4 linked regions of the Homo sapiens genome follow. The protein of the gene in region 1 interacts with the protein of each later gene in a pairwise test. Each region holds a gene or a part of one and is shown in the gene's direction. Other genes may lie near its edges. The genes, in order: GORAB, LRP10, TMEM229B and GIMAP5.

Evidence for each region.
Region 2: the proteins of GORAB (region 1) and LRP10 interact in binary tests that used the Homo sapiens proteins (3 or more experiments, as listed by UniProt).
Region 3: the proteins of GORAB (region 1) and TMEM229B interact in binary tests that used the Homo sapiens proteins (3 or more experiments, as listed by UniProt).
Region 4: the proteins of GORAB (region 1) and GIMAP5 interact in binary tests that used the Homo sapiens proteins (3 or more experiments, as listed by UniProt).

The regions. Positions count from the first base shown.
Region 1 is NC_000001.11:170,534,441-170,542,395, forward strand, and holds part of GORAB (RAB6-interacting golgin), read left to right. Parts: intron 1-1,869; exon of another isoform or gene 1,870-1,981; intron 1,982-4,769; coding exon 4,770-5,127; exon of another isoform or gene 5,128-5,131; intron 5,132-7,955.
Region 2 is NC_000014.9:22,874,079-22,882,033, forward strand, and holds the end of LRP10 (low-density lipoprotein receptor-related protein 10 isoform 1 precursor), read left to right. Parts: intron 1-976; coding exon 977-1,167; intron 1,168-1,252; coding exon of another isoform or gene 1,253-1,276; coding exon 1,277-2,294; intron 2,295-2,610; coding exon 2,611-2,740; intron 2,741-2,861; coding exon 2,862-3,449; 3' UTR 3,450-5,120; coding exon of another isoform or gene 5,121-5,123; 3' UTR 5,124-7,635; downstream 7,636-7,955. UniProt on the Homo sapiens protein: Probable receptor, which is involved in the internalization of lipophilic molecules and/or signal transduction. May be involved in the uptake of lipoprotein APOE in liver.
Region 3 is NC_000014.9:67,478,344-67,486,298, reverse strand, and holds part of TMEM229B (transmembrane protein 229B), read left to right. Parts: intron 1-7,955.
Region 4 is NC_000007.14:150,732,688-150,740,462, forward strand, and holds the start of GIMAP5 (GTPase IMAP family member 5), read left to right. Parts: upstream 1-4,730; 5' UTR 4,731-4,817; coding exon of another isoform or gene 4,818-5,021; intron 5,022-7,775. Other genes in the region: GIMAP1-GIMAP5 protein, read left to right, coding at 4,818-5,021. UniProt on the Homo sapiens protein: Plays a role in T lymphocyte development and the optimal generation of CD4/CD8 double-positive thymocytes. Inhibitor of GSK3A, possibly by sequestering GSK3A in cytoplasmic vesicles and impairing its translocation to the nucleus.

The DNA.
Region 1 (7,955 bases):
CACAGATTTTGGTATACATGGGGATCCTGGAACCAATTATCCTCATATACCAAGGATCAGCTAGCTGTATATATAATATATACAGTCACGCACTCAATAACAGTATTTCAGTTAGCAGCGGACCACATATATGGTGATGGTCTGGTAATATTATAATACCCTGTTTTTACTATGCTTTTTCTATGTTTAGATACACAAATACCGTTGTTACAGTTGCCTACAGTCTTCAGTATAGTGACATACTGTACAGGTTTGGAGCTTAGGAGCAAAAGGCTGTACCATATAGCCTAAGTATATAGTAGGCTGTACCATCTAGGTTTGTGTAAATACACTCTCTGATGTTTGCGCAAGGACAAAATTGCCTTACAACACATTTCTTAGAATGTATCCCTTTGTTAAGTGACGTATGATTGTATATAGTGGGGAGGCGTGGGAATGTGATCAGGGAGAGGGAATTTCAGAGGTATTGGTATTTATGAAATCAGGTTAAGACAAGTTAAGCTAAAGTAACAAATAGCCCTAATAAGTCAATTGTTTAAAATAAAGATTTGGTTTTCACTCGTTTCATGTTTAATGTGGGTTTGGCAGGTGACTGTGTTGCACAGTCACTCCGTTTTTTGGTGCTGTCTTGTAGGAGTTTACCATAGTAGGAAGAAAAGAAGATTGAAAATTGAACATTGGCAATTAAATCCTTTCACCAGTAAATGACATGTGACACTCCTACTTTTATTTACCAAAAGCAAGTCATATAACTTGGGAGACAGGAAATAAATTCTCTCTTCTAAAAGGAGGATTATGTCTATCCTTAAAGAGTAGTTACTTCTACTACTGTCATATTTTATTTCTTAAACTTTCTTTTTAATCATATAGGTTGGAAGACTGAGTGTGTGTGTTTATGAGTGTAACACATGCATATATTTGATGTATGGTCTATTTCATAATGAAAAATTGGAAGAAAACAGTACAGCCACATGCTGTCAATTTTTAGTTAAATTATTTATTCAGAAGAGTTATTCTTCATACTGATTCTTTGCCAGTTACATTATGAATATCTTCTCCCAGTTTTTAAGTTATCTTTTCACTTTTATCTTTTTGATGAACAAAGTATTTTATTTTTTGAGACTGGCTTTCACTCTGTTGCCCAGGCTGAAGTGCAGTAGCACGATCATAGTTCACTATAACCTTGAACTCCTGGGCTCAAGCGATCCTCCTGCCTCAGACTTCCAAGTAGCTGGGATTACAGCTGTGTGCCATTACACCATGCTAGTTTTCTTCCTTTCTTTCTTCTTTTTTTTTCTGTAGGGATAGGATCTTGCTATTTTGCCTAGGTTGGTCTCAAACTCCTGGGTTCAAGAAATTCTTCCTCAGCCTCCCAAAGTGCTGAGATTACAGGCATGAGCCACCACTCCAGGCCTTAATTTTAATGTATTCAAATATGTCAACCTTTTTTTAATAGCCAACATTTCCATGTCTTAAGAAATTAGTTTCTTACTATACTTAGTATAGTAGTTACAGGTGTGAGCCACTGCACCCAGCCAGTATTCTTGACCTTCTATCTTTTCATATAAAAATTTTAATAATTTTACCAAATTTAATGGAAAACCCATTAGGAATTTTGATTGTAATTGCATTGAATCTTTAGATCAATTTCATCTTCATATTATTAACATTGCCACTAACGTGGTATATGTCTCCGTTTATTTAGTACTTGTTTAAATTCTCAATAAAATTTTAGAGTTTTCCCTATAGAGGTACTAAACATCTTTTTGTTAGATTTGTTCCTAGATAAGTAATAATTTCTGGTATTGAAATATATTCTCTTTAATTGTATTTTCTAATTGTTTTCTGCTGATATATAAAAAATACAAGACAAAAGAAAAGTCAACAAAAGACATGAATAGATATTTCCTAGAAAAGGAAATATGAAGAGATGCTCATCACCACCAAGGAGCAGAGAATTACAAATCAAGAATACAGTGAGGTACTATTTTACACCCATTTGATTGACAAAAATTAAAACATCTGACAGTATCGTGTATTGAAGAGAAAGTGCATCCACAGGATCTTATACATTACTAGAGGGAGCACACTTTGGAAAGCATTTTCACATTTCTTCTAAAGTTATATTTTGTGACTCAGTAGTTCTTAGATAATATCCAAAGCAAATTCTTGTACATGTAAAATAAGAGACACATTATTGAAATTTACAAAAGCAAAAACCTGTAACCAACCTAAATGTCTATCAGTGGAAGAAGATCAATAGACTCTGGTTTATTCACACAATGAAATGTTATACAACAAAATGAATGACTGCTGAAACATAGACAATATGAATGACTATTGACAGTGTAATATTAAGTAAAACAGATGTACAGCACAAAACCCTTTTTATAAAGTCAAACAACTAAGTAAATACTTTTTAGAAATATTTGTAGATGCAATATGACTATTAGAGAAGGAAGAGAATAATCAACATATGATTCAAATGATAGTTTTCTGAGGTGGAGGGAGCAGGGCTTAAATAAAGGATATGGAGTATATATCACAAACTGGTAGCCCATTAGCTTAATTTAACCCAAAAATGTATGTGGCTTTTCAGCTTTGCCTCCTTTCTTTCCCCTTCTTTCTTTTTTCCCTCCTTTCTTCCTGCCTGCCTTCCTTTCTTTCCCTTCTTCCCTCCCTCCCTCTTTCATTCCTTTCTTTCTTCTTTGTCTCTCTTTCTTTTATCCAATCTTTACATTTCTTTTAGTTAATAATGGTGATAATCATTGTGTTATTTGCTAAGCCAGCTATACCTGTTGCCTTTGTTTGGGGGTAGGTCCATGTACTAGGTTAGCCATTGCATTGTGAGCAGAAGTGTTATGTCACTACTGGGTCAGCAGTTAATTGCTATAGCAAGACCTTCCTGACCTCTCTCTTCTCCTTGTGTTGTGGTGGCCAGCAACACTGAATACTGACTGTACAGTCAGCCTAGAGCCTTGAGAGACTAATCAGCAGAACCTCTCTGTTAGCCTTTAGTTGGCACTTGGCATTAATGAAAAATAAACCTTTGTGGTTTAAAACCACTAAGATTTGCCCCTACAGCGTAATCTAGATTTTCCTGATTGAAACAGTTCCCTACATTTAAAAATCAAGATATTTTACATAAAAGTCTAAATTGTAATCATAAAAATCAAAATATCTGGCTATGGTGACCTAAATTTTTTAATGATAGCAATTGACTAAAGGTGACTCGGAATTTGCCCCCTTTACACTAGACTTACGCTTCTCAGTTCACCACAGTCTCCTTGATATTTGCAGCCCCTAATACAGAGTGTGGGAAGCAATATGTTCTGTGTTTAAGTGGCCTGATTTGCTTATTGTTTATTGTTTAAAATTAGCATTTTCAGTCTTATAGGTAGGTTCTGTAAAAATGCAAAATAAAATAGAAGTTACTACCTGAATTTCAGAGGAACTATTAATAATTCAGCTAATGAGTTCAACAGGGAGATAAGCAGGCTAAGTGACATTTTTTGATGGTGTGAATAAAGATCAGAGCCAAGAATGTGTTCCTGTTGCAAGATACAGGATACTTTGTGTTTCTGGCTAAAGTCAACAATAACATTTGCTTTTGATAGTACTTCAGTCTTTTAAAAAATATTTTCTGTACATATCTCATTTAATTCTTACACCAACTTCATGCATTAAGTAGAGCAGGTTAATTTTCAACCAGCTTGATAGATGAGGAAACTAAGGTATTGAATAAATAATTGACTTACCTGAGGTCACTGAGCTGGGCAGAAGCAAAGCTGGAATTGTGACTCTAGAGCTTTTAACTATACTTTGGGAAATTCAAATAATAAGCTTGTTTTGCTTCAAAAGTCAATATGCCAAATTTGAAAGTCCCATTTGAGTTGTTCATTTACAAGAACTGATAACTTCACTTCCCAGGCATTTAAGAGAGAATGCTATTTATAGATCTTATGAAATATAGTATGAATGTGGGTCAGATTCTCCAATTGTCTGCCCTAAGATGTTAACACTGGCATGGACAGTCCAAAAAGTATAATAGAAGTGTTATTATTTATAACTTTAAAGATATTTCCCCCCAGTTGTTTTATCTTCTATTGCTTTACTGAGGCTACTATTAAAATCAGTTTGAATGCATTGATTAGAGCCTGACTAGGCTTCGGGGAGTACAACCTTGGATTGTTCTGTAGGATGAAAGACAACAATTTAAGGTTAACTAGCATTCCTAGAAATAAGAGACTTCACTCAATTACATGCCTGTTATAGCATCTGAATATGTATCACATATGTACCAAATTGCCCTAAAAGCTGTTAAAATTTAAGAGAGGGTAATCCCATTTGAAAATGCAACCACCATTTTGTTTCAGTAGAGCAGACAGAACCATAAATCAAATTTAAAACCAGATAATTCAGTCACCTCCCTGATTTGGTCAAAATTAGTTGCTTTCTTTTGACAACTATGAAATCAAGTTGAAAAAGAAACTTCACTTTGTGACCTAAGGCCTAACTCACTGATGGACTTTCTCTGAAGATAAATTAAGAGATGGGGCAGTTTCTGTTAAATATTAACATTATGATCTGAAAACTATTGAAACTCTACAGGAAGATGGCTGTTTTTCCCCTAGACTTTCAAGATAGAGAATGGGGTAGGAGAACCACTAGAATTATCAACGTTTAATGTTAATTTTTTATTTTCTTAGAGGAATTATAATTATTTGCTGCCCACACAAAGGAATTTTCCTCTATTTTCTTTTACATAGATCCATTTGAACCACAGCGACGTCTCCCCGCGAAGAAAAGTCGACAACAACTTCAGCGAGAAAAAGCCCTTGTAGAGCAAAGCCAAAAACTTGGGCTTCAAGATGGATCAACCTCATTACTTCCAGAGCAGCTGCTTTCAGCACCAAAACAGAGAGTTAACGTTCAAAAACCACCTTTTTCTTCCCCTACTCTTCCGAGTCATTTCACTCTCACCTCCCCCGTTGGTGATGGACAACCACAGGGCATTGAAAGTCAGCCAAAGGAACTGGGACTTGAGAATTCCCATGATGGTCACAACAATGTTGAGATTCTACCTCCAAAGCCAGATTGCAAATTGGAGAAAAAGAAAGTGGAATTGTTAGTAAGTCTATGTGAAAAGTCCATGAGACTTTTCATTTAACCCGTTTTTTCCCAATGGGCTTTAAGGAAATATAATTTGTTTATTTTAACATTTTCTCTCCTTTATATTCATTCAATCATAGGAATGTGATGTATAAACTATTGAAAAATAGCTACTGCCTAAATATAAGCTGGACACAGGCATTCTGTATGTTTTATGTTCTTTAGTCTTCATAACAGCCTTACAATGCATGTTTATTATTTAAACTTTATACATGAGGTATCTGGGACTCAGAAAAGATGATACCTTTCTAAAGCTAATACACTGCTAGTAAATAGTAGAGATTTACAGATAAGTCTGTCTGGATCCAAAGTTTATGCCTTTTACACTGAGCAGAAGCAGTTCTTTTTTTCTTTCTTTTTTTTTTTTTTTTGAGATGGAGTCTCGCTCTGTTGCCCAGGCTGGAGTGCAATGGCGCAATCACAGCTCAGAAGCAGTTCTTATATGCATAGTGCCTCTGCCCAAATTGACCCCTTTTTTCAACTTCCAGACTATTTCCATTGGCCCAGAAATTGGAACTTGTGGAGAGACGTGAAGGGATGGTCAAAGGAGAGAGTGTAGGAAATTTAGGGGACTAATGATATAACTCAGTTCATCATTAGATTTCTTTTTATTTATTCTTTACTGTCTTTGTATTAGAAACAACCTTCATAATTTAGCTACACTGTTCTTGTGGAAGATGCCATTTTTTGATTTGCAAATTCTTAGAATTTTTTATTTGATAGCTTGTGTTTTAATATATACTCTTATTTCTTTGTTTGCTCCTGATTTATCTCTCACAGAGAAGGAATGACATTTTTCTGTTTTCTCTTTTCTGAGTTCTTTTCAAAGTATCTTTTTTTTTTTCTAATCTCTGACATCTTTTTAATCTCTGCTGATCCAGATTCTATCCTGTGAATTTAAAATGTTTCCTGTCCACTAGGGGTTTACAACTAAGAAATCATTTTGACAAGAGTTATAAAACCACATGAATTATGAAACCTATATTGAACAAGTGCATACATTAAAGTGTCTCTAAGTGTAGTTTACTAACAAAGGCCGGAGACAAATAGGAGGTAAGTTTACATTGAGCTGGACAATTTGGATTGGATGTTATAGGGAAACTTATTCTTTTTTTGGATACTTGGAAGAATTTTCATAAAAGACCTGTAACCTCAAACCATTCACGTAAAGGAGAAATTTTGAGGTTTTAAGGAGGAGAAAGGAAAGCTGTGTCCTAGAGAATGTTCAGAGATGATACCTCATTTCTCTGGGAGAGGTGGCAAAGGATAAGCCAGAGAACAGTAGAGAATTAAAGAAATGAGGAAGGAGGACAGGCGTGGTGGCCCACACCTATAATCCCAGCACTTTGGGAGGCTGAGGCAGGCACATCACTTGAGGCCAAGAGTTGAAACCAGCTTGGCCAACATGGGGAAACCCTGTCTCTACCAAAAATACAAAAAAATTAGCTGGGCGTGGTGGTGCATGCCTGTAGTCCCAGCTACTTGGGAGACTGAGGCACAAGAATTGCTTGAACCTGGGAGGTGGACGTTGCAGTGAGCCAAGATCATGCCACTGCATTCCAGCCTGGGCAACAGAGCAAGATTCTGTCCCAAAAAAAAAAAAAAAAAAAAAAAGCAGAACTGAGGAAGGATCAGAAGCAGAAGCAGGGGATGAATAAGTAGAGAATTAAAGAAATGAGAAAGGATCGGAAGCAGGGGATGCCTTCCTTCCTAGCAAGTTCACTAATGCAGCAAGTTACCATGAAGCTCTCTGAGGGCTAAAGGCCGCAATCAAAATAAAGGTTAGAGAAATCCCAGGTGTCAATATTGTAGATCATATGCAAGAGAGTGCATAGTGAGCTGTGGAACTAAGGCGCCTGGTGAGGAGATGCCTGCAGTAGTAAAAGTGAGAAATGACCAGTCCCAGCACTAAGGTGGAAGGTGTAGAAATGGAGAGAGAAGGACAATTTTGGAAGGGGCTACTAGATTTGGGAATAGAGGTATGTGATATAATGGCTGTAAGAAGTGACAGTAATAGGAATAAATAGCTTTGCCAATACCTTGTTTAATTTGAGTTGACATCAAGCTCATGACTTTATGGGAAATTTTAATGTATTTATTTTAGAATTGGACAGATTGTAAGACAATACATGTTTTCACATCTTTGAATTTTTTTCTTTAGCCCAGCATTCCAGTCTTAGCTCTTAGTGTTTTACTTTGTTTAAAAATGTCCAAGTTGGGCTGGGCACAGTGGCTCACACCTGTAATCCCAGCACTTAGGGAGGCAGAGGCGGGAGGATAGCTTGAGCCTAGGAGTTCGAGACCTGACTGGGTAATATAGCGACACCCTGTTCTCCACAAAAAGGAAAAAAGAAAGACAAAAAAAAGTCTTAAGAGTTGGGAAAAAGTGAGCAAATTGAAAGAAAATATTAATATATGAAATAAACATTGGTTATTGTCTGAAACATGTTAAGGTGGTGGAGACTTTATAGAAAACTCTAAAAGGTATAAATAATATGACATCAGCTACAAACCAATTTTTATTAATCTCCATTCTGCATATAATACATAATTAACTTACACAAATTTCTTTGTACTCCTAAACACATGCCACAGTATTCTGGCTTCCAGTTTGTGGATTCCTAGATTATATATATAATGGATTTCAGAGGTCCAATTTATGTAAGCCTCTTTACTTTAGATCGTAGTCTTTGTTCCCATTAGAGCAAAATAATGAACTGCAGATGGGTTTCTTTTAAGAGGACTTTTGAAAGAACATATACATAAATCTTCTTGATTAAATT
Region 2 (7,955 bases), on another chromosome or scaffold:
CTGAGATTCAGAACTACTCCTTAATCAGCTTAGAACATCCCTCAGCCTCTCTGGATCTTTTAAACATTCCAAGTCACCCCAGGCTCCCCTGACCTTGGTCATTGTTTGGGGATCATATTAAGTACCTGGCTGTTTGCCTCACATAGTTCATTTTCCATGAATTTACCCAGAAAGGGGTAGGCAAAGAGAGAGGGCAATCTGTGGAGAGGCTGGTGGGGCAAAGGGATCAGAATGCCATGGAGAACCAATCCAGGTCTCACATCTGGCACAGTGGGGTGGGATAAGATGGTGAGTTCTGGTTAATTGAACTGTATGGTAATCACCAGTTACTGCTGGTACCATACTTGGGTGACAGTGCTACAACAACTGGAATGCAGTGCACCTCTTCTTAACTCAGTCCCAGAACACAAGTCAATTTTTCCAAAGGGCTCTAGGATATATTTTATGGTCTCATGGCGATACCATGAGGTATTCCTACCATGTTAGGAAGATCCCCATTGACTACATTGACTTAAAAATAATTTGGCTGCCGGGCATGGTGGCTCACGCCAGTAATCCCAGCACTTTGGGAGACCAAGGCGGGTGGATCACCTGAGGCCAGGAGTTCGAGACCAGCCTGACCAACATGGTGAAACCCCATCTCTATTAAAAATACAAAATTAGCCAGGTGTGGTGGCGGGCACCTGTAATCCTAGCTACTTGGGAGGCTGAGGCAGGAGACTCACTTGAACCCAAGAGGTGGAGGTTGCAGTGATCCAAGATCACACCATTGCACTCCAGCCTGGGTGACAAGAGTGAAACTCTGTCTCTAAATAAATAAATAAATAGGCTAACTGAGTTTTCATTTGGCCATTTAGATCATGGATAAGCAGATGTTTATGCTTCCTGGGACACAAGGGGCCTGGTGGCACCAGGGGAGGAGAAAGCCAGCAGCAGTCAAGAGTATCTCATGTCCTGCTCTCCTCTACTCCCATAGGTTCCAGAAGCTACACCTGGCCTGTGGCTCAGAGCGCTTAACCCTACGCTCCCCTCTCCAGCCACTGATCTCCCTGTGTGAGGCACCTCCCAGCCCTCTGCAGCTGCCCGGGGGCAACGTCACCATCACTTACAGCTATGCTGGGGCCAGAGCACCCATGGGCCAGGGCTTCCTGCTCTCCTACAGCCAAGGTAGGCTGGACAGGGATGTCTGAGGAGCAGGCAGTGAAAGCCCCAGGCAGAAGGGGAGGATCCTGAGGGTTCTGGTGCTTCACAGCCCCTCTCCATGGTGCCTCTGCAGATTGGCTGATGTGCCTGCAGGAAGAGTTTCAGTGCCTGAACCACCGCTGTGTATCTGCTGTCCAGCGCTGTGATGGGGTTGATGCCTGTGGCGATGGCTCTGATGAAGCAGGTTGCAGCTCAGACCCCTTCCCTGGCCTGACCCCAAGACCCGTCCCCTCCCTGCCTTGCAATGTCACCTTGGAGGACTTCTATGGGGTCTTCTCCTCTCCTGGATATACACACCTAGCCTCAGTCTCCCACCCCCAGTCCTGCCATTGGCTGCTGGACCCCCATGATGGCCGGCGGCTGGCCGTGCGCTTCACAGCCCTGGACTTGGGCTTTGGAGATGCAGTGCATGTGTATGACGGCCCTGGGCCCCCTGAGAGCTCCCGACTACTGCGTAGTCTCACCCACTTCAGCAATGGCAAGGCTGTCACTGTGGAGACACTGTCTGGCCAGGCTGTTGTGTCCTACCACACAGTTGCTTGGAGCAATGGTCGTGGCTTCAATGCCACCTACCATGTGCGGGGCTATTGCTTGCCTTGGGACAGACCCTGTGGCTTAGGCTCTGGCCTGGGAGCTGGCGAAGGCCTAGGTGAGCGCTGCTACAGTGAGGCACAGCGCTGTGACGGCTCATGGGACTGTGCTGACGGCACAGATGAGGAGGACTGCCCAGGCTGCCCACCTGGACACTTCCCCTGTGGGGCTGCTGGCACCTCTGGTGCCACAGCCTGCTACCTGCCTGCTGACCGCTGCAACTACCAGACTTTCTGTGCTGATGGAGCAGATGAGAGACGCTGTCGGCATTGCCAGCCTGGCAATTTCCGATGCCGGGACGAGAAGTGCGTGTATGAGACGTGGGTGTGCGATGGGCAGCCAGACTGTGCGGACGGCAGTGATGAGTGGGACTGCTCCTATGTTCTGCCCCGCAAGGTCATTACAGCTGCAGTCATTGGCAGCCTAGTGTGCGGCCTGCTCCTGGTCATCGCCCTGGGCTGCACCTGCAAGCTCTATGCCATTCGCACCCAGGAGTACAGGTCAGTGGGAGTGGGGCTGGCAGTAGAAGAGTAGACCCTGAGGGTGAGGCTGGGCTGTGCAGCTACAGGAGACCACGAAAGTGCCCACCTTGGGGAGAGGCTCCCATGATCAGCTTGTCAGTTGTGTCCTGTAAGGGACAGGTCCAGATCCTGAAAGCAGTTTCAAGGGAGGAGGGACCTCAGATGACCTTTGGGAAAGCCATGGCACAGCTCCAGCTGGCCTGGCCCGGGTGTGGAAGTGGGAGGACTGTCCAGGCTGAGGTGGTCTACTCTGGCCGAGAACTACCAGTGACTGAGCAGTCCTCATTCCTTCTAGCATCTTTGCCCCCCTCTCCCGGATGGAGGCTGAGATTGTGCAGCAGCAGGCACCCCCTTCCTACGGGCAGCTCATTGCCCAGGGTGCCATCCCACCTGTAGAAGACTTTCCTACAGAGAATCCTAATGATGTAAGTCACTCCCCACAACCCTAGCACCTCCTGGTCCCAGTTCTGCTGTGGCCCCGCCCCTGTACCCTCCTTCATTCAGCCTTTGGCCCTCTGACTCTGAGGCCTCCTCATTTCCTTGCAGAACTCAGTGCTGGGCAACCTGCGTTCTCTGCTACAGATCTTACGCCAGGATATGACTCCAGGAGGTGGCCCAGGTGCCCGCCGTCGTCAGCGGGGCCGCTTGATGCGACGCCTGGTACGCCGTCTCCGCCGCTGGGGCTTGCTCCCTCGAACCAACACCCCGGCTCGGGCCTCTGAGGCCAGATCCCAGGTCACACCTTCTGCTGCTCCCCTTGAGGCCCTAGATGGTGGCACAGGTCCAGCCCGTGAGGGCGGGGCAGTGGGTGGGCAAGATGGGGAGCAGGCACCCCCACTGCCCATCAAGGCTCCCCTCCCATCTGCTAGCACGTCTCCAGCCCCCACTACTGTCCCTGAAGCCCCAGGGCCACTGCCCTCACTGCCCCTAGAGCCATCACTATTGTCTGGAGTGGTGCAGGCCCTGCGAGGCCGCCTGTTGCCCAGCCTGGGGCCCCCAGGACCAACCCGGAGCCCCCCTGGACCCCACACAGCAGTCCTGGCCCTGGAAGATGAGGACGATGTGCTACTGGTGCCACTGGCTGAGCCGGGGGTGTGGGTAGCTGAGGCAGAGGATGAGCCACTGCTTACCTGAGGGGACCTGGGGGCTCTACTGAGGCCTCTCCCCTGGGGGCTCTACTCATAGTGGCACAACCTTTTAGAGGTGGGTCAGCCTCCCCTCCACCACTTCCTTCCCTGTCCCTGGATTTCAGGGACTTGGTGGGCCTCCCGTTGACCCTATGTAGCTGCTATAAAGTTAAGTGTCCCTCAGGCAGGGAGAGGGCTCACAGAGTCTCCTCTGTACGTGGCCATGGCCAGACACCCCAGTCCCTTCACCACCACCTGCTCCCCACGCCACCACCATTTGGGTGGCTGTTTTTAAAAAGTAAAGTTCTTAGAGGATCATAGGTCTGGACACTCCATCCTTGCCAAACCTCTACCCAAAAGTGGCCTTAAGCACCGGAATGCCAATTAACTAGAGACCCTCCAGCCCCCAAGGGGAGGATTTGGGCAGAACCTGAGGTTTTGCCATCCACAATCCCTCCTACAGGGCCTGGCTCACAAAAAGAGTGCAACAAATGCTTCTATTCCATAGCTACGGCATTGCTCAGTAAGTTGAGGTCAAAAATAAAGGAATCATACATCTCAAAATTTTGCAAATTAGCTGCGAGCCTGAGCCCCGCCTCTGCCCATCTCAGTCTATGCTCACCTCATCCCACTCCTCCCTGTGGAGCCCTTTGCTTGGCCCTCTACCTCCTGCCCTCTTCCTGTTCATCTCCCAACCACTGCACTCTTGATTTTTATACCACACAGAAGGTAAGAAAATTCTAGGAACCCTAAGGATCAATCCTCTCCATTTTCACTCAAATGCCTGGGGCCCAGCTCTGCAATGACTGACTCCAGGGCCTCTTTCCTCACTGCCAGCATAGAAGTCAGGGGAGCCAGCTGGGCCCTGCGGTCAGGAAGGTTCTCATTTTTGGAGCATACCCTGAGCCCAGATCATAGGAGCAGCTGTCCCTGGTGGGACACAGGAGTCATGACTCCTACCCTCCACCCTCCACACCCACCAGGCATTTAGCAGTCTGTCCTATGCAAGACAGATGAATTCTCAGCCAGGATACCTCAAGGCAGGCAAAGGTGAGTGGAGGGAGAATTCACAAACATTCAGGGTGTGTGGTGCTGGCATCACCATGGCCAAATCCAAGAGGTCTTCCTGGAAGAGGGCCCAAACTGGAACCAAAAGAATGCTGTCAGCAGTTGGAATAGAGCTGTGAATTCTAGACAGGGGGAGTGTCCCCAGAACAAGCAAACGGAGGAGACAAGAGGGCAAGGGTTATAGGAAAGACCCTGGGCCTGAGAGCACAAGCAGCGGCCAGAGCTGCAGCGCTGGGGTGGGTGATGGAGGGAATGATTCGCAAGCAGTGTTGGAACCCAGCCCCTAGTGAGCAAAGTGACAGAAGCTGCCCCAGAGTTTGGAAGGAAGATCGAGGCAGAAGATGTAGAAGGAAGCTGTGGGGGTGGGAGTGATGCCTCAGGAACAAAACTGAGGAATTCCCTAACGGACCCAGTCCCTGGGGAAAGAGGCTCCCCTCAGGCTCTCCTTGTCTAGCCCCACACCTGGCAGAGCCTGTCACCCAGCCTAGCCCCACGCCTGGCAGAGCCCATCACCCAGCCTAGCCCCACACCTGGTGGAGAGGCCCTGTTGATTACACCCTGTCAGCCTCCTCAAACCCAGCACTAATTGCACAATTTTCCTCTCTTCTAGTGAGCAAGAGCCTGAGGAAGTAGCAGAGAGGGGTGTGGGCCCATGTGCAGTTCTGGGACCCTGGCACCTTGGCTCAGGGAAGACCCGAGCTCCTTTCACTGCAGACCCTCTCCAGAGACTGGGGAGAGGGCTCTGGAGAACCTGGTTCTTGCTTACTGTTCTCCCTTTGGGCCCTCCTTCCCAAACGCAAACAATCCAGGATCCACTCAGCGTCAGGCCCAATGGAAATAGTGAAGCAGTGATTTTCCCTCCCCTGCCTCTCCATAGCCTGGTCTTTTGCCCTCTCCTTTGCTCTTCTCTTCCCCCATAGCCACCTCAAATACCTGCAGCCTGATATCTTCATCCCTTCATCCAGACCTTTTCTCTCCTAGTGGTATTGCAAACTGAAAGTGGACAAAGACTTAAGGTAAACCTGCTCCTCATGGTGGAATGCTTCCAAATGCTGGAAGGAGGACTTTAGGGCAGAGTTCACTAAGGAGGCTTGTGCTTATAGATCAGTGGGCCTGAAAGAAGTTTCTCTAGGTTCTGGTTGTGTGCTGTACGAGGTGTAGGTAGTAATAATACTCTTGTCAGCCACAGTGAAGCCCCAAGCTAGCCGGGATAGGGGACTGACCTTGTACAGGCAGCATGGAGAAACTAAGACAGAGTGTCCTGCCCAAGTGATGGCACTGGGGAGCAGTCACTCAGGTTTATTTCCACCAGGGCCCAAGAAAAAAAGAAATGAGGCAACCTAAAATTCCATCAAGATAGATACCAATATCCAAGGTGCTTGGTCTTAGCGGTGTGGGACCCACGTTAAGGCTCTTGGTGGGAAGGTGGGAGGTGTTTTCAGCATGAGATAGGGTTCAGGCTGTGAATCAGAGTCTAGAGCCTAAGATAAAAGAAGATACCAGGGCTGGGCCACGGTGGCTTTCGCCTGTAATCCTAGCACTTTGGGAGGCCAAGGCAGGCAGACTGCCTGAGCTCAGGAGTTCGAGACTAGCCTGAGCAACACGGTGAAACCCTGTCTCTACTAAAATACAAAAAAGTAGCCAGGTGTGGCGGCATGCACCTGTAGTCCCAGCTACTCGAGAGGCTGAGGCAGGAGAATTGCTTGAACCCGGGAGGCGGAGGTTGCAGTGAGTGGAGATCGCGCCACTGCACTCTAGCCTGGGTGACAGAGCGAGACTCCTTCTCCAAAAAAAAAGAAAAGAAGATACCAGAACTCAGTCCTTAAGAAACAAAATTCTGCCAGGCGCAGTAGCTCACACCTGTAATCCCAGCACTTTGGAGGGGCCAAGGCAGGCGGATCGCTTGAGGCCAAGAGTTCAAGAACAGCCTGGGCAACATGATGAAACCCTGTCTCTACCAAAAATACTAAAAATTAGCCAGTCTCACAACCTGGTCTCAAAATAAATAAATAGATTTAAAAAAAAAATCATGGGCCTGAACCAAGCTCCAGACCTCACTAGGAGGGGAGAAGGACCCCCCAGCCACACAGCCCAAGGCTGCAGAAGCACCTAGGTGGTTAGAGAGTGAGTGCCTGGATGGGGCGCAGTGGCTCACACCTGTAATCCCAGCACTTTGGGAGGCCGAGGCAGGCGGATCACGAGGTCAAGAGATCAAGACCATCCTGGCCAACATGGTGACACCGTGTCTCTACTAAAAATACAAAAATAAGCTGGGCATGGTGGTGCGTGCCTGTAGTCCCATCTACTCGGGAGGCTGAAGCAGGAGAATCACTTGAACCTGGGAGGCAAAGGTTGCAGTGAGCTGAGATCGCGCCACTGCACTCCAGCCTGGCAACAGAGCGAGACAAGACTCCATCTCAAAAAAAAAAGTGAGTGCCCGATGATGCCAGATTCTTCATCACCTGAAGTGAACCCACACAACAGGGCTGGGCCATGGGCATCATAAACCCCATTTTGCAAGCTCAGGAGGAGCTTTAGGGAAATCAGAAGACTGGCCCAGTCTCTACCAAGTGGTGGATTTAGAGCCGGCATGGCTTCGTTCCAAATCTCACCCTTGTCCCACCATTCCATGGGACCTCCCATTCCTGAGGGAGCCTGGATACGGGCAAGTGCACAACCCGGGAGGTTGAGGTTACAGTGAGCCATGATCGCACCACTGCAGTCCAGCCCGAGCAATAGGGTGAGACCCTCCCTCTGAAAAAAATAAAAATACTCATTTTGGAAGGAAGTCATTCTAAAATGTTACACTTGTCTTCAGCATATCTGCAATATAATAATTTTCTGCATAACTGAGGATCATTCACAGAAACCAATGGCTTTTCTCCAGCAGTGTCTTCTGAAGTTGTAACAGTAGGGGCACGGGGAGCTATTTGCTTTTATGCTAAATGACCTTAGACCACTTATAAAATGCATATGAGTGCTTTAAATGTTATTTTGTGTGTGTGTGGTGTTGCCTCCCTGACTACAAGGGGTCACTTGCTACTCTAAATGTGTTTCTAATCTACTAGTACAGGAACACACATGGACACGTTAAAATTGTGAATAAAAGTAAGTAAAAAGTAAAAGTAAGTAGGCCATGACTGAGGACTGGAGAATCTACCCAGTGAGTAAAGCACAGGAGTATTTTAGCAGCTGAGGGGTCCTTTCTGCTCCCTCAAACCCTGCACTGTTGCCCTATAGCTGACCTCCAAATAAGTGAAGTGTCACTGCACATTGTTCCCAAGATTATTCTTTGCCTCTTCCATTGGAAGAGTCCACTGAGGATAGCAATATAGACTGTTCCCAATAATAGGAGACAGTTGGAATATTTAAGAGAAGGAAAGCTGCACAATGTAGAAATGAAAAATCCTTGGCACTGGAAAGATGTGGGTGGGATTCCTGGTGT
Region 3 (7,955 bases), on another chromosome or scaffold:
GTCTCAAAACAAAACAAAACAAAAACCCATCAGATCTCATGAGATTTATTCACTATCACAAGAACAGCATGAGAAAGACCTGGCCCCATGATTCAATTACCTCCCACCCAGTTCCTCCCACAACATGGTGGAAATTCAAGATGAGATTTGGGTGAGGACACAGCCAAACCATATCATTCAGATTGTCTGGCGTGAGTGAAGCGAGCACTCACACCTGGGAAACAGCATCTACTTTGGCCGTCAGGCTTCAGATCTGTGCAGTGAGGACCATGCATCACCTGGGACTGGACTCTGCCCAGAAGCCATGAGCAATGCATGTGCTGCTGGTCTAGGAGGCCTGGAGTAGGGCATCCAGGGCCCTGGGAGGTGGGGGGATTTGTGAGCCTTAGCTGCCATAAGAGTGACCACCAGGGGATCTGGAGGAGCATGTCCTCTTGCTTTTGTCACATATCAGCAGCAGCATCTCCTCCTCAGCGAGACAAGCTCGAGGTAGGGTGAGAGGCTCCTAACTGCACAGCCCTGCCTGTCCTCACAGGCCTTTCTTTCCAGCCTCAGCCCCTGGCTTTTCCTTGATGATGCCTTAAAAAATGACAATTGGCTGCTTTCCCAACCCCCAGAGGCCTGTCTGGCCTGAAGGCTGTTATGTCTGTGCAGGGCCCGTAGCCTGGTGGGATCAGAGGCCTGCAGGAAGGAAGCTCCCCAGAAGGCATGGCAGGCAGAGCTGGGCTTTTGCAATCTTGAACAGACAAGCTTTTTTTGGAGTTCCTAGGCTGGTCCATGGGAACCCAGAGCTTCAGATTCCATGCAGGAATTTGCAGGGAGTAGAAAAGGGGTAATCAGGTCTTTTTCCACTTTAGGTAGATCTTGACTCTCCTAGTTGACAGTTTATAATTCAGGGCCAGAATCTGTTTTCCACTCAGCCTGGGCTTACAAAGTCAGTTTGACTGGAGAGTTTCTCAGGAAGTGTGTTCTTGAGTTGATTTGTAGCCAGGGTGGTGTGAGCAAGCCTAGACTGTAGGAGGGGAGTTGGGGGTAAAGAGATGGCCATGGGTGCCTCTGTGGGAACGTCGTTCCTCAGATGGGAGGCACATCTCCCCAGAGCAATTTATGCCATCAGCCTTAAGGCTGTTGTACCGTTTGGTTCAGTGATTCTCCTTCTGGAATTATCCATTAAGATATATTATTAGGAAATAGTACCAGAGAAGAAAAGGGCTGAATTCTTCCATTACAGGCATTAAAGGTAATTCTCGTTATATCATCTGTAGTAGTAGAAATGGGAAACAACTGTTCCCTTTGGACATCTAGGTTAAGTAAATTACAGTTTTCCGCTTGCTGGAATATTACACAGCCATTATAATAATGAGCACAGAGGCTATATAACAACTTGGAAAAACAGTTATGACAAGTAAAAATGGCAGGTTGCAGAATAAGTATATTATGGTGACTTGTAAAATACACACATAGGAAAATATTGCAAAGGAGAAATGGTAATCGCTGTTAGTTCAGAATTATGAGTGCTTTTTCTTTTTTTTTCTTTATTAGAAATGAGGTCTCACTATGTTGCCCAGGCTGGTCTCAAACTCCTGGGCTCAAGCAGTCCTCCCGCCTCAGCCTCCCAAAATGCTGGGATTACAGGTGTGAGCCCCCATGCCCGGCCTATGAATGCTTCTTCTATGATGCATGGATTGGCTTTTTAAAAAATAAAATTGAATCCGGATGACTACACAACATACCATTAATAGTGACTTTCTCTAAGATGTGTGATTACAGGGAACTTTTGCTTTCTATGTCATTCTGTAATGTTTAAATTTCAGCTGTGAGCACATGTTGCTTTTATAATTAGAAAAAAAATTAAATGCTAGAATTAAATGTTTTAGAAGGCTATATTTCTCAAGAAAGGAGGGAAGAGAGACCGAGGCAGCTAGCTGTTTATACCTGCCCTCATCAGTGTTTAAGGGCCTGGGCCTGTTTGGGCCCACTCATCCATCCATTCATTCCACAAGTATTACTAGGTATTATTGCCAGGCACCACTCTAGGCACTGACTAAACAGCAGTGAACAAGACAGTGCCCCTGCTCTCATGAAGTTTTCATTCTAGTTGAGGAGAGACAGACCATAAATAAGTAGCAACATATCAGAAAGTGAAAGTGCTATGTAGAAAATAAAATGGAATGATGTGAGTGACAGAGAGGCTATTTTGGACTGGGGATCAAAAGTCCCTGAGATATGACAGCTCAGCTGAGATCTGAATGGTAACAGCAAGGCAGCCACATACAGGTCTGGGATGCCAGCCTGCCAGTCCCCCGTGCAGGGCATCCTTCGCTTTCTGAGCCCCAGGGACCTCTGTGCCAGAACTGACTCCATCCCCCAAGCCCACTCACCCTGCCCTGCCTCCTGCTGCGGTTTGCTTGGGATCTGAGGCCCCCTGAAATCCTCTGTGTTCGGACCGCTCCTCCTGACATGCTGGCTGTTGCTCCTCTGGGCAGCTGGCCCCTGCTCTTGGCTGGTGTCTCCATGGCAGGGCTGGGCCGGGCCATCTGAGACTCCCAGGAGCACTGGTGTGGGCTGGCAGTCAGGGGGCCTCTGGGTTGTGTGTGTCCTGGTGAGGGGCCTTTGAATGGCGCATGCCTTGGGGCCTGAGGGTTGGTTGCTGTCATGGTCCTGTGACTGTCAGCTTTGACCCTGGAGGGCCTCTGTGTGGATCCCGAGGAACAGGCTGGGAGCCTTTAGGAACTCTGACACCCAGTTGGGAAGTTTGTTAATGAACCACCTAGAAGTTCACAACCTTCTCCTTGCTTCCTGTTGTCTCTCCACATACCATCCCAGCCTTCCAGAAGCAGGAACTCAGAAAATGGTAGTGCCCTCAGAGGAGCCTGCAGTCAGCCTCGGGGGCAGTGCAGTGTGCTGATTAGGAGCAAAGACTCTGGAACCAGATTTGTGGGGTTTGAATCCCAGCCTTGCCTTTTATAGTTATTAGAATGTAGGCTCGGCCAGGTGTGGTGACTCGTGCCTATAATCCCAGCACTTTGGGAGGCCGAGGCAGGCAGATCACTTGAGGTCAGGAGTTCAAGACCAGCCTGGCCAACATGGTGAAACCTCGTCTTTACTAAAAATACAAAAATTAGCTGGGTGTGGTGGCAGGAACCTATAATCCCAGCCTCTTGGGAGGCTGAGGCATGAGAATTGCTTGAACCCGGGCGACAGAGGTTGCAGTGAGCCAAGTTCACACCACTGCACTACAGCCTGGGTGACAAAGTGAGACTCCATCTAAAAAAACAAAAAACAAACAAAAAAAGAACGTAGCCTCTTTCTGCCTCACTTTCCCCATCTGTAAAATGGGCTTGAGAATTTTTTGAGTTAATACATGGAAATACTGAGAAGAGCACCTGGTTATTATTATTACTGTGACTTGGGAGGTGGAGGGAGGACTTCATCAAGGCCTGCAGTATCACTAATCCCAGGGGCTTTCCTTGGGGGGCACCCACAGCAAGAGGGTGGAAGTCTGCAGCATGTGCACCAGCCAGTGGCTACAGGAGTTTCCCTCCACTTGCTTCCCTTCTGGCCCTGGGCAAGCCCTATTTTCCTCCCTGCTAACTTGATGACAACAGGGGAAGTTCAGGGAGGTTTCTGCCCTTTCCTCATTGAAGCCACTTATCTTCAGCACAGAGCCGCCCAAGGGCTCCTGAAGCTGTCCCCCGCTGCGTTGCCTCAGGGGTCTCCTAGAAGGGCTGTGGGTCTCCCCAGAACATGGAACTGTAGTGATGGGGGTGGCTGGGGATGGGGAGTGAAGCTTGGGAAGTGAGTGGAGTGAAAGCGGAAGGCCTTCCCAGCCCGGTTGCATGGGAGGGGAATCCCAATTTTCTGGCCAGATGCTTCTCTGGACAAAAATTCCCAGAGTCACTGTGTTGTGGCACCTTAGCCCCCTGAAACAAGATGGGAGTTTTTGACAAAACCAAGGGCAGTTATTCCATCTGGTTTTGCCTTCAGCCTGTCTTAGACTTTTATGGCAGCCTCTTTACCCCTCTCAACTGCTGGCCATGTCCCCTGCCACCCTGTGGAACAGCAGGCTCGGAGAGCAGCCGGTGAGATGCTCTTAGTGAACAGGGCTCTGAAAGCCAGATCCCCTTCCCCTTCCCCATCACCTGTTCCCTTGAAGGGGTAGTTCCTAGACCTCACAAGTCACCTTGAGTCCTGGCCCTTCGATGGGACTCTGTTTGCCCAGGCCCTTTCATCAGGTATGAGGACTCTCGGATTTGAATGTTGTTCAATGAAACCCTGCTTGTGAAGCTATCCTTTGCTCTCCAAACTCTGTCCTCCTGCATTCAACCTTGCTCACACTCTCCTCCTCTTCAATCCACCCTGAATTTCTGTTCCTGGGCTGTCCTATCTTCATGTCACAGGTCTCAGGACAGTTTTGTTTGTCACCAGGAGAAAGAAGCCAAGGTCCCCTGAGCTGCCGGTTCTCCCTGCAGCAGGCTTTCCCAGGGCTCTGATCCCAGGGCTGAGCAAGGAGCTAGTGGAAGGAGCCTAAGGATATAGGGAGTCGGGTGGGTGGAGGCCGGGGCAGGGAATAGAGGCCTGTCAGGCCCTGTATGGGGTGGGCGAGCCTGTCCTAGCTCAAAGTTAAGCACAGCTCCTGTGCTGATTAGAAATGGGTTTGGAGAGTGGGGTTCTGAAAACGCATCCAAGTCAATGCCCAGCCTCTAATATTATCATCTTCCCCACCACACTGGGAGCTGCCACCTCAGCCAATGACACTGTCTCCTATTCCTTTCTCTTCAACCCCATCTTCTGCCCTGACTCAGGTCTTTCATTTCCCCTGTTGGTCTTGCATGGACCAGCTATGTTCTCCTAGTTCTGCCCTCGGACACTGTCTGACATTGCCGTGGTGTGCTTCCCCTCCATCTACTACCCATGGCTTCCTGCTGCCCAGAAACAGAATCTGGGCTTGGGGCACACCATATTTCTCTCTCCCCCATCTCGCTTTTTTGTTTTTCTTTCTTTCTTTCTTTTTTAAGAGACAGGGTCTTGCTCATTGTCCATGCTGGAGTGCAGTGGCACAATCATAGCTCACTGTAGCCTCAAACTCTTGAACTCAAGGGATCCTCCTGCCTTAGCGTCTGGGACTACAGGCACACCACATCAAACCAGCCTACTTTTTTTTCTTTTTGTAGAGATGGTGGTCTCGCTATGTTGCCCAGGCTGGTCTCGAACTCCTGGCCTCAAGCTATTCTCCCACCTCAGCCTCCAAAAGTGCTGGGACTGCAGGCATGAACTCCATCCTCTCTTCTGTTCAGCAACTTCCTGTCTCTCACCCTAGGTTTCTCTCTCCCTTTGACAGCTACCCCTTTCTTCTTGCTTCTGCTCCAAGGGTTTTGGGATCTGACTCTCCCAAGTTACTTGCTGGGGTTGGGGAAGAGACTGGACCCTCCCGTCTGTTACCAGCTGGGAAACCGGTCTGGGCCATCCCAGAGAGATCAGAGGCAAGAAGAGCAGGGTTTAAAGTCAGCTTCAAGGCTGGGGTCTGGCCTGAGTAATGAGATCCACACAGTCATGTCAGGCTGCTGCAGGAGAGCCCCTGTGAGGTTCCTGTTCCCTCAGCCCGGGCCCTGGGGGTTGGAAGAGCCAGGGGGATACGTGCAGGTCATGGGGCCTGAGTTGGGGTAGGAGGTCCAGAGGTCTCCACATCCCTGTGCTGTGCCATCTGTCTCAGGCCCTCAGACCGCCTCAGTGTGTTCCCCTGGAGCCTGGATCTGTTCTCTCCTGCCCGGGGGTAGGAGGTTAAATGAGGGGGTGAGAGGCTGTGCCCCTTTCATTCCACCATCTTTTCAAGTCTGCCCCTCGGGCTGGCTCTGACACCCTTCCTCTTCCATTCATCCCTCGGTAGCCACAGGGAAGCTGGAGGCTCACCTTCAGTCTCCCGGGATGTCTGTGGGAGTTTTGTTCTCCTGAGGGCCATATGTGGGGTTATTATTGCCACCCGATTTCTTGGCTCGCTAGCTTGGTGCTCAGGGTTGTGATGAAGACCTAACCTGCTTGACAGGAAGGGCTGCCTGGAGGCTGCCGAGAGCAGGGGCACAGTGACCCTGCATCGGGTAAGAGGCGGTGTAAAAGCAGGAGGGGCTGTCCAGAGGTCTGGCTCTGTGCCAGAAATGACAGCTGCCCTTTCTGGAGCCTTAGCTGTATTTTAAGTAGTGTATATGTACGAGTTCATTCGTCCTCACAACAGCCTTCTGTGGTCATTACTTCCGTTATCCTCACTTTACCTACAAGGACCCTGAGGCACAGGGTGGTTGGGCAGCGTCCATTAGGTCTCACAGGTGGAAAGCATCAGCCAGGATTCCAACCCAGGCAGTTAGGATCATCTGGGGTCCCTGAACTTAACCAGCTGGCCATATTGAGACCTGTGAGGCATGGTTTGTTGTTGGATGACACAGGAGGGAAGAGCCTGCAATAATTTTACATGACTTCAGGTTTCTTTGGGTTCATTTGCTTAGCAAATTCATTGAACACCTTCTATACACGAGGTATGAATACGGTGAATACATATTCATTCCACAAGCATTTTTTTTTCCTTTTTTGAGACGGAGTCTCACTCTGTCACCTAGGCTAGAGTGCAGTGGCGCTATCTCGGCTCACGGCAACCTCCGCCTCCCAGGTTCAAGCGATTCTCCTGCCTCAGCCTCCCGAGTAGCTGGGATTACAGGTGCATGCCACCATGCCCGGCTAATTTTTGTATTTTTAGTAGGGATGTGGTTTCACCATGTTGGCCAGGCTGGTCTCGAACTCCTGACCTCAGGTGATCTACCCACCTCGGCCTCCCAAAGTACTGGGATTACAGGCATGAGCTACTGCACCCAGCTTCCACAAGCATTTTTTTTTTTTTTTGAGACAGAGTCTTGCTCTGTAGCCCAGGCTGGAGTGCAGTGGTACGATCTCGCTCACTGCTACCTCCACCTCCTGGGTCCCGGTTCAAGCAATTCTTCTGCCTCAGCCTCCCGAGTAGCTGGGATTACAGGCACACGCCACCACGCCCAGCTAATTTTTGTACTTTTAGTAGAGACAGGGTTTCACCATGTTGGCCAGGCTGGTCTTGAACTCCTGACCTCATGATCCACCCACCTCAGCCTCCCAAAGTGCTGGGTTTACAGGGTGAGCCACCACGTCCAGCCTCCATAAGCATTTTTAAGATGAAATTTTAGTTTTATAAAAGTTATACATGCTTGTTAGGAAAAAAAAGTATGCAGAAAAATATAAAGAAAAAAAGCACATATGATATCACCATCCAGAGATGATTGTTGTTTAATTTTTTTGTATATGTGCACATATGCATGCCTTTGCAGAATCGGAGTTAGGTTGAATATTCAGTTTTGAATCCTGCTTTTTTCTCTTACCACTATCTTAAACAAGCATTCCTCAGGAGGCTGCTGGTGCTGGCGTTCAGATGAATCCAGTGAAGCAGAGTGCTCACTATTACCACAGAGAAGGGAGGGTGCAGAAGTGGGAAGACAACTCTGGAGTCAGGGTGCTTAGGAAAGTCCTCACAGAGGAGGAGCTGGGTCTTAAAGGAGGGTTCACCGGCCCTGGGTGGGGCCCAGGTAGCAAAAACAGCAAGGTAGAGATCTGGAGGACAGGATTGGAGGCAGGGACGAGTTGTGAAGGGCTTTGCCAGCCGTCCCCAGGGGTTTGAGCTTTATTTACTCTGTAGATGTTGAAGATCCACTCATGGGCTTCAAGTGGTGAGAAACATCGGATTTGCATTTTAGAAAGGTTGCGTTTTTTCTACACACTCTTTCATCCTGTGATGAGTGAATTAGAAGGAAGAAGGCAAAGCTGGGAGACCTTTGGAGTCATCCAGGTGAGACATGATGAGGGCGTGAACCAGAGCAGTGGCAGCAATGAGAAGAGTAATGAAGAGGAGGGGATGGATCCCAAAGATATTTAAGAGGTGGTAA
Region 4 (7,775 bases), on another chromosome or scaffold:
GAAGAGGCTGCTCTCAACCTCAGATGCAACTGATCTCAGGCCTCGAGCCACCTTGGGGTTTTGGGGGGCTCTTTGTCTCCCCTCTGAAGGGTGAGGGGGAAAATATCTCAACAAACCTATAATTGATAGACAGCTCAAGGGCCGAGAATTTCCAATGTAATGACTCAAAAGGAAATCAGCCTGGTGAGGGTACACCTCAGCAAGCTCAGAAACATTATTCGTGACAGGAAGATATCAGCTTGTGGATCCCAAGATGCTCACCAGGAGACATTCAGTTGCAGGTGATAATGTCAGGGTAGAGGAGGGTCTCATTAGGCTTTCAGGAGGGTCCACCCCACTCCAGATGCAACAGGAGCTGTCCTCCATGGTGCCAGCCAGGAAATCTTCAGGGACCTTATCATCCCATCTGGACCTCATCTAACTCATCTAATAAACAACTAGAGGAGAGCGTCAAGGCATGCATTCAGTCCTGCTGCTCCCTCTTGGCCTTTTGAGCTAACTAAATGGGTGAAGGTTCTACTCTAAATGCAATGCTATGGAATTAGACAACTAGACATCAGCTACCCAGACAACTCCAGAGGTCATGACAACAAGCTCTTAAACCTGCTCTAGGCACTGTCCTGCCCTGACACCTACATACTCTCTGCTTCCTTTAAAATAACCGCTTCAAAGGGCCCCTTCTCCACCTCCAGTCAACCTTGATCACATGTCCAAGTTCTACTCCACACCTCAGGGCTTTCTCCTTGGGGTTGGTCCGTTTTGACCTCTTTTCTTCCCAAAATCCTGCTTAATACATTGTCTAAAACTGTGCTATCATGTATTTTTTACCATGACCCTCAGTTTTATACTGCTTCCCAGAGCTTACATACACTCATATTTTGTGTGACTAATTTTGATAGTTTCTATTCTACTCTATTTCATGTTTTGATGCTCTACAATGGGGTGTATGAAATACACTTGTCCAAAACATTCATTTGGGACCCTTACTCATTGTCTTTCATTTGCATAAGTCTTGTCTCTCTAATAAGATTTCAGATTCCTTACGAGGGTGGCTTTTTGTCTGCTTCCCATGGGTGCTGTCTGGACTTACCACCCATTAGGTCTGGTGTGGTGCAAAGGCTCAGGAGAATAGGGTAAATTTGCTTCAAAAGATGCAATATTTAGATACTTAGAGTGTACTTCATGGCATCGTTAATCCTTCCTCCATGTTGTATGTCAACTGTGGGCTCAAATAGTGGCCCCTTTTATTGACCTGGATGTTTCTGAATCCTCAACTCTACCTCCTGGATTCACCCCTAGATGATCTCCGCCCCCACCGTGAAGCCTCTTCAGCAGCTGTGGTCTCTGTAGAGCACCCTGATCCAGGAGGCTCCTTTCCTCACCTCCAATTAGAGGCGCCCCTGACCTGGACCCTCTCAGCCCTGAAAAGAGTAGCCATGACCTTGTCCAGACACAAAGGAAATAATAATGTTGATAATATAGAAATGCCTGCATTTTAATACTTTTTTTCAGCATCTTTTACCTGCTCTTTGATTTTCGTAAGAACACAATGTTCTAAAAAAAAGTTCCAAGAAAGAACTTTTTTTAGAGTGACTACCGACAAGGAAGAGAAATCACACTTCAGCATTTGGCTTCAGGGCCTCCCAACATTGACTTGGGGTTTCATTTCCACATTTCCCACTAGTCATGTTCATAGGAGACCTTCATGGAATAGGGTGAGATGATGGATGAAGAGACAGAGGCCAGATGGTGAAAGACAGCAAGCATGACTAAGAGTTAGGAGACCTTGTGGTGACCAACAGGCTCACTTTGACTGGGACTAAGGGGTTTCCCAGGACGTGGGCCTTGTAGTACTAAATCCAGTCAAATTCAGGGCAAGTTGGCGGTTGGTCACCTAGGACCTCAGCCCAGTGGCTCAGGAGAAAGTGGTAAATGCCATGCCTCCTCTTTCCCTCATTCTCCCTTCCTCCTTCATCAGAAGGCAATAATTGTCTGTCTCCCATTTCAAACAGAAGGTCCAAGGCATGAACCCAGGGGTCCTTGAATCACTCCAAGTTGGTAGGGAAGGTGGCTGCCCAAAATGTCTCCGAGATGGAGCTTTGGCATCTCCTCAGCTTAATAAAGCTGATTCTCAGGGCAGCCTACAGGTATCTACTCTGAGATGGCTACTGCACTCAGAACTCCAGAAACTTCATCACATAGCTAGAGCACATGAGTTGCAACTCAGCGTGCTCAGTTCTGTGCACCAGGGAGCATCACAGAGAGAAAGCAGGGATAGCAGAGGTGGCTGGGGATGGATAGAGACATGCTTTCAGTAATGATTCATCATATTTTGTACTATGTCAGGTTTGGTAGAGAACTGTCTCTGTCCAGGCTGAAAAGGGATTGAATTTGGTGTCAAACAGAAGGGTAGGGAAAATGGCCACTTCCTCGGTGTCCCAGGTTTCCTGGGGGTTTGTTTGTTTTGCAAATCTGAACAGAGGAATAGAGAGGGTGTGGAAAAAGGCACAAAGAGTCTAGTTTTGGAAATCCTTTCATATCTGGATATATACGAATTTCTACAACCCTACTTTCTGAAAGTAGCTACCTAAGATTATTCTTCTAGCACTAAATGTAACTACAAAAGGGGACATGAGGGAAGAGTTAGAGCATTTAAGTTGTATGTTTTACTGATTTACTCAGTAAGTATTTTTGAGCACTTTCTAGGGCTAAGTTCTAGCAAGATCCTGACCTAAAGACAGTCCCTGGCCTCTAAAAAGCCCACGATCTCACCCAGAAAACTGATAGAGACCAGTTAACACATTTCATCATTGACTCCCTGGGGTCTCTTTGAGCCATAAGAGGAGCCTGGGAACTGCTAGAGAAGAGATAAGACTTAGAGAACAGATCTCAAAGCAGAAAATCAGTCCTTAGCTGGGGTGCCAGAGCACCCAGTTCAGTGGATAAAAATAATGTTTGCAAATAGTTCAAACCAAAAGGAAAGAAGAGAAGGAGTTTGAAGATGTTGCCAGAATTAAGTGAATTTGCTACATTGATGGGAATGGTTAGCTTCGGTGCCCCTCACTGTTTATAAGATTTTGATGTGAACTCTGTTGGTCAAGTTTTTGAAAGATTCCAGCCAGGTGCTGGGGGAGTACCTGGTCCCTATCTAGCAAGGGTGAAATCCTGGTCAGATTACAGCCCACTTTCTGCCCTGCTCTGCTCAATTCACATAAATTATGAGTGCTGACTAGGTTGAAAGTCCTTGAAGAATTTAAAAATGTAAGGGCGAATAAAAATCAAAAATAAGGAGAAAACATTAATTCTCTTTTCTGGGGAAAAAACAAAGTGGAAAAGAATTACCCCTCCCTTCTTAGAGCATTTTCTTTAGAAACCTTGTAAGTGTGAAATCTTTCTCTACCCTTTGTAATGCAAATCTTTTTAAAAGCTGTTTGACAGCCCAGGGCTGTCTGTAGAGCATCTGGAAGCCATCCCTTTGAAATGCAAACATCAAGGAAGGTAGCGTCCCCACCTCCCAGTCTCTGTGTGAAAATAGGGGCCTAATTTAGGAGCCTAACTTAGGTAGGAGCCTGACATCTGCCAGCACCTTTCTGAGTTGCAAATCTTCCTCTTGCCATAGAGGATGTGAGAAGTTTACTTTTCCTCTGGAAAGACAATTAGCCAACACAGATGATTACTGAGTGAATTTAGGATGAACTATGCATGTCAAAGGGTGCTGTCAAGTCCTCTTACTTGAGGATTAGTTATGGTTTAACTTGAGAACACGTGTGTAATAGGTGGCACCTGCCTGGCTGTATAACCAGGTGGCATCCCTCTCCGTCTTTGCAATCTCTTCCTGGATTGTCTGGGATCCAGATCACATTCTGGTTCAATGGACATTCAATAATAAAATTGTTTTCTTTCTCTTCTGCCTCTGTGGAGAGGTTTTCTGGGCTAGCAGGAGATTGTTTAAAATTGTTTTCCCATCAAGTCTTAGACAATTGTTACCATATGACTGTAAGCCCCACTTCAAATGTCAACAGAAAAGGATATGGGGATTCTCTGGGCCATGACGGCCCTCCGCCTAAGTCCCACTGTGTTCTCCATCGCATAATTGCCTTATGTCCACTGCCCTAACCTTAAATGGCAATCAGGTTTATGTCCACTGCCCTAACCTTAAATGGCAATCAGGTTTATGTCCACTGCTCTAGCCTTAAATGGCAATCAATTCAAAAATAGAGGTTCTATCACCCTGCTTTCAACCCTTACCAGATAAACTGACACGTAGACTCCACAATGTCCCCACAGGGTGGGCTCCATCACGTGCCAGACAGCTTACCAGGGTCAGTCACGAGCCCAGAGTCAAACCCTGCAAGGGCTTGTTCTGGTCCTCTTTGGACCAGAGTGCCTTTCTGATCCTGGTTAGCAGAAACTTTCCAGAAGCAGAGCCTGTGAGAAGGGGCCCAAGAGTGCTGGGAGGAGAAGGTGCCCCGGTGATGGGTGCTGAGGGCAGCAGCTGCTGCCCAGAACTTTCCAGTCACTAGGGACCTTTTCTGAACTTGGAAGTGGGAGAGTCTGTAATTCCCTTCATATCTCCTTCTTCCAAATACTGCTTGCTTGAAACAGTCAAAAAAAAAAAAAAAAGGAAATGGGATGGGGCACACTGTCCCAGGGCAGGCTCATGACAGGAAGTGACCCGTTAAGGAAGCAGCACATCGCTGCATTCGGCTGGTTTTCAGGGTCTTGTTCCCAATCAGTTTCCAGCCAACACCAGGGTGTCCTAGTCCGCAGAGGTGTGGGGGACACACTCCATAATCTCTACTTTTCTTTTTGTGCAGCTGAGTCATGGAGCTTTCAGCCCCAGCACATGGCTCCTCCTTAACTGCGTCTGCTCAACCTCCCTCAGCCCTGTGAACAGCATCCCCGCACACAGACGCAGAGCAGGACTCTCTCTGCTGCCACTTCACCTTCCTGAGAGAGGACCAGCGGCCAGAGCCTCAGTGACTGCCACCCTGGAGGACAGGGCACAACAACCGTTTCTGGTAAGGAGAACTGGGTTTATGCTCACAGAGACTTTGGGAATTGAAAGGATCACAGTTTGGTCACAGCTGTTCATTTCTGACATGACCTTGCACAGATCCCCTCACTTCTGGGTTCGCTGGTCAGTAAAACGGGGCAATGGTGATGAGTGTTGCGGGCATCAGCAGGTGCACAGCTGGTGGAGCACAGCCTGAAGAATCTGTGCCTGCACTCACAGCCCAGTCCCAGGACAGCGGGCTTTGCTGCCCCATTGCCCATTACTTAGCCAAGTCGATCTCCATGAAACTCTCAGGGAGTAAGGCTGAACTGATCCTCTCATCAGTGGGACAGATGGGAGAACTGAAGCTCCCAGAGGGTGATAGGCTTTCCCCCATCTCCCCTAGCATGCCGGGGCATTCTTCTCAATTTTACCCTCCTAATTTCTCCTGTCCCAGACCAGCCAGACACGTACCATGTCTCAGACAAGCCTGGGAGCTGAGGATGGATTCTTAGGGCTCCCCAGGGCAAATGTGGGATATTTTCCCACCCCAGGAGCCTCATGTTCCAAACAAGACCCCTGAGTGGACCTTGTCTTGTGACTTTCAACTTCTGAAAACTACCCCATGCTCCCCCAGATGCCCCACATTTTTCCTATGACACCCTGCCGGACGCACACCAAACCGCAAAACACATGATTCCAATACCTGGAAATACATGGGCTGGGGCAGATGGGTGAAGGAGATACTTATGAACAAGGAAGACAAGAAGTGGTTTGATCTTTTCTAAAATAGTATGGAAGAGGCTGCTTTCTTGTAATTTGCTAAAATAAGCTCTTCTCATGGTAAAATCAGGTTCATGCAATTTTCAAATCGGAATGTGCATTTTGTTCATTTGCTTCACCCTTTTCCCTGAGCCAGACCCTCCCACCAGCTTGCCAGAGGCTGCTACTGTCTTGCTTGCACACTGCCTTCCAATCTCTCATGAACTTTGGTCTCTTTTGTGGGACGATTAGTAAAATTTTTCCTTTGGAGAAGACGCCTGTCTTCATTCTCAATTCCTCCACTTTTGTCTGCCCTGTAGACCAACACGTATCACATTCCTTCAAGCCTACGGTGTGTCCACCACGCTCTATTCAGTTCTTTTATAATCTTCTCCATGACTCATTTTAGCATTGCCATCAGTATCCTTTCTGACTCACCTGTGAACACTTTGTTATTTGTGAATATCTGCCAAAAAATGTATTCCTCAATGCAGCCTGATCCACTCAGAAAGCTTGGATTGGGAGAGCTATTGTTGCTGGTCATTGGCTAACATAACATAGTTTGACTGGCTTTTGTGACAGGCAATTGGCTGTTTTAAAAGAAAAGACCTCAATTCAGAGAAACTCCTGCCACCAGCAATTTTATTTTTGAATAACCTTTTATAAGAAATGCACTCAAGATTTTGCAATAAAATTCTGTGTGTTGGTTTTAGGGTAGGCTTCTAGCTGTCCAATTAATTTGTCTCCTGACCAGGGAGTGGCAGCATTGTACACATGTTCCAAGAGGTTTGTTGACTTTTTTGGAAAAGTCTCTTTTTCCACCTGTGGAATCAAGGACAATACACAGCAAAAGGAGCCATTTCCTGATGCTAGCTCCATTGTAAATATGTGACCTTTGGCAGGTCATTTAATGCTCAGTTTCCTTGCATTTTAATAGAAATTTTAAGATCAGTTTTGATCACATCACAGGGAATTTGAGAGAGCAATTAAAATAAGAAGGATGAAATAACTTTGAAAATTATAAATGTATTCACAGAGGCTTATTACAATTATGATGTTCATAATCAATATCATTACCACTGTCATCTTGACCCTTACCACATCATTATGTTGATTCCAAACCTCAGAAAACGTCATCTAAAGTAGAGAGGATGTCAGGGAACTGGTGCTATTTTAGCAAAAGCCAGAAGCATAATTTACCAGAGACGAGAACAGGGTGTGGGAGAGAGGAAAATGTTCTTCTCTGGGCTTAAGAAAAAGAAAGAAAGGAGAGAGGGGAGGGTAAAGAGGAAAGGAGGAAGAAAAGAAAGAAGGGAAAGGGAGGGAGGCAGGAAGCTGTCTTAATACATTCTGATAATATAAAAATAGATTTCTTGACCTAAAGAAGGCCAAGAAAATCCACTGAATGAATAGAAAAATGTGGAAAAGATAGAAATCACAGAAGTTATTAAAAATTGAAGTTTATAAATTACCAAAATAGCAAATAAACCATGAAAACTGTTTTTAATTTAATGATAATCAGTAAAATGTAAGTTTAAGCCAATTAAGACATCCTTATTTATGCCCATAAGGATGACAGGAAATTAAAAGTGTAATATTACTAAGTGCCTGTGAAGATTTGGGGACTTCTTATAAATGGGTGGTGCAAATAGGAGTTAACTCAACTCCCTGGGAGTCATATTTGGCAATAACCAGTCACGTGGAAAATGTACATCCCCAATACTGTTGCACAATGCTGGAAACCCGGAGCAGGCAATGAGTTGTTCTTGAATTCGGCCTGAAGTTGATTCTTTCTCTTCAATCACCTCACTACCTCCTCTCCACCAACCGTCAGGGTGGGAAAGCGGTCATACCGGTCCCCCTATACCATTTCCTCTCACGTCAGTTCTTCGTGTCCCTGATCCCCACTTCCATCCTCCCACTGGACAGTACCTTGTAATTTCCTCTCCGCCGCTGGAATGTCCATTTGACACAAAGACTTTCTGGGACTGGAAGTTTCCACTACTTCAAATAAACC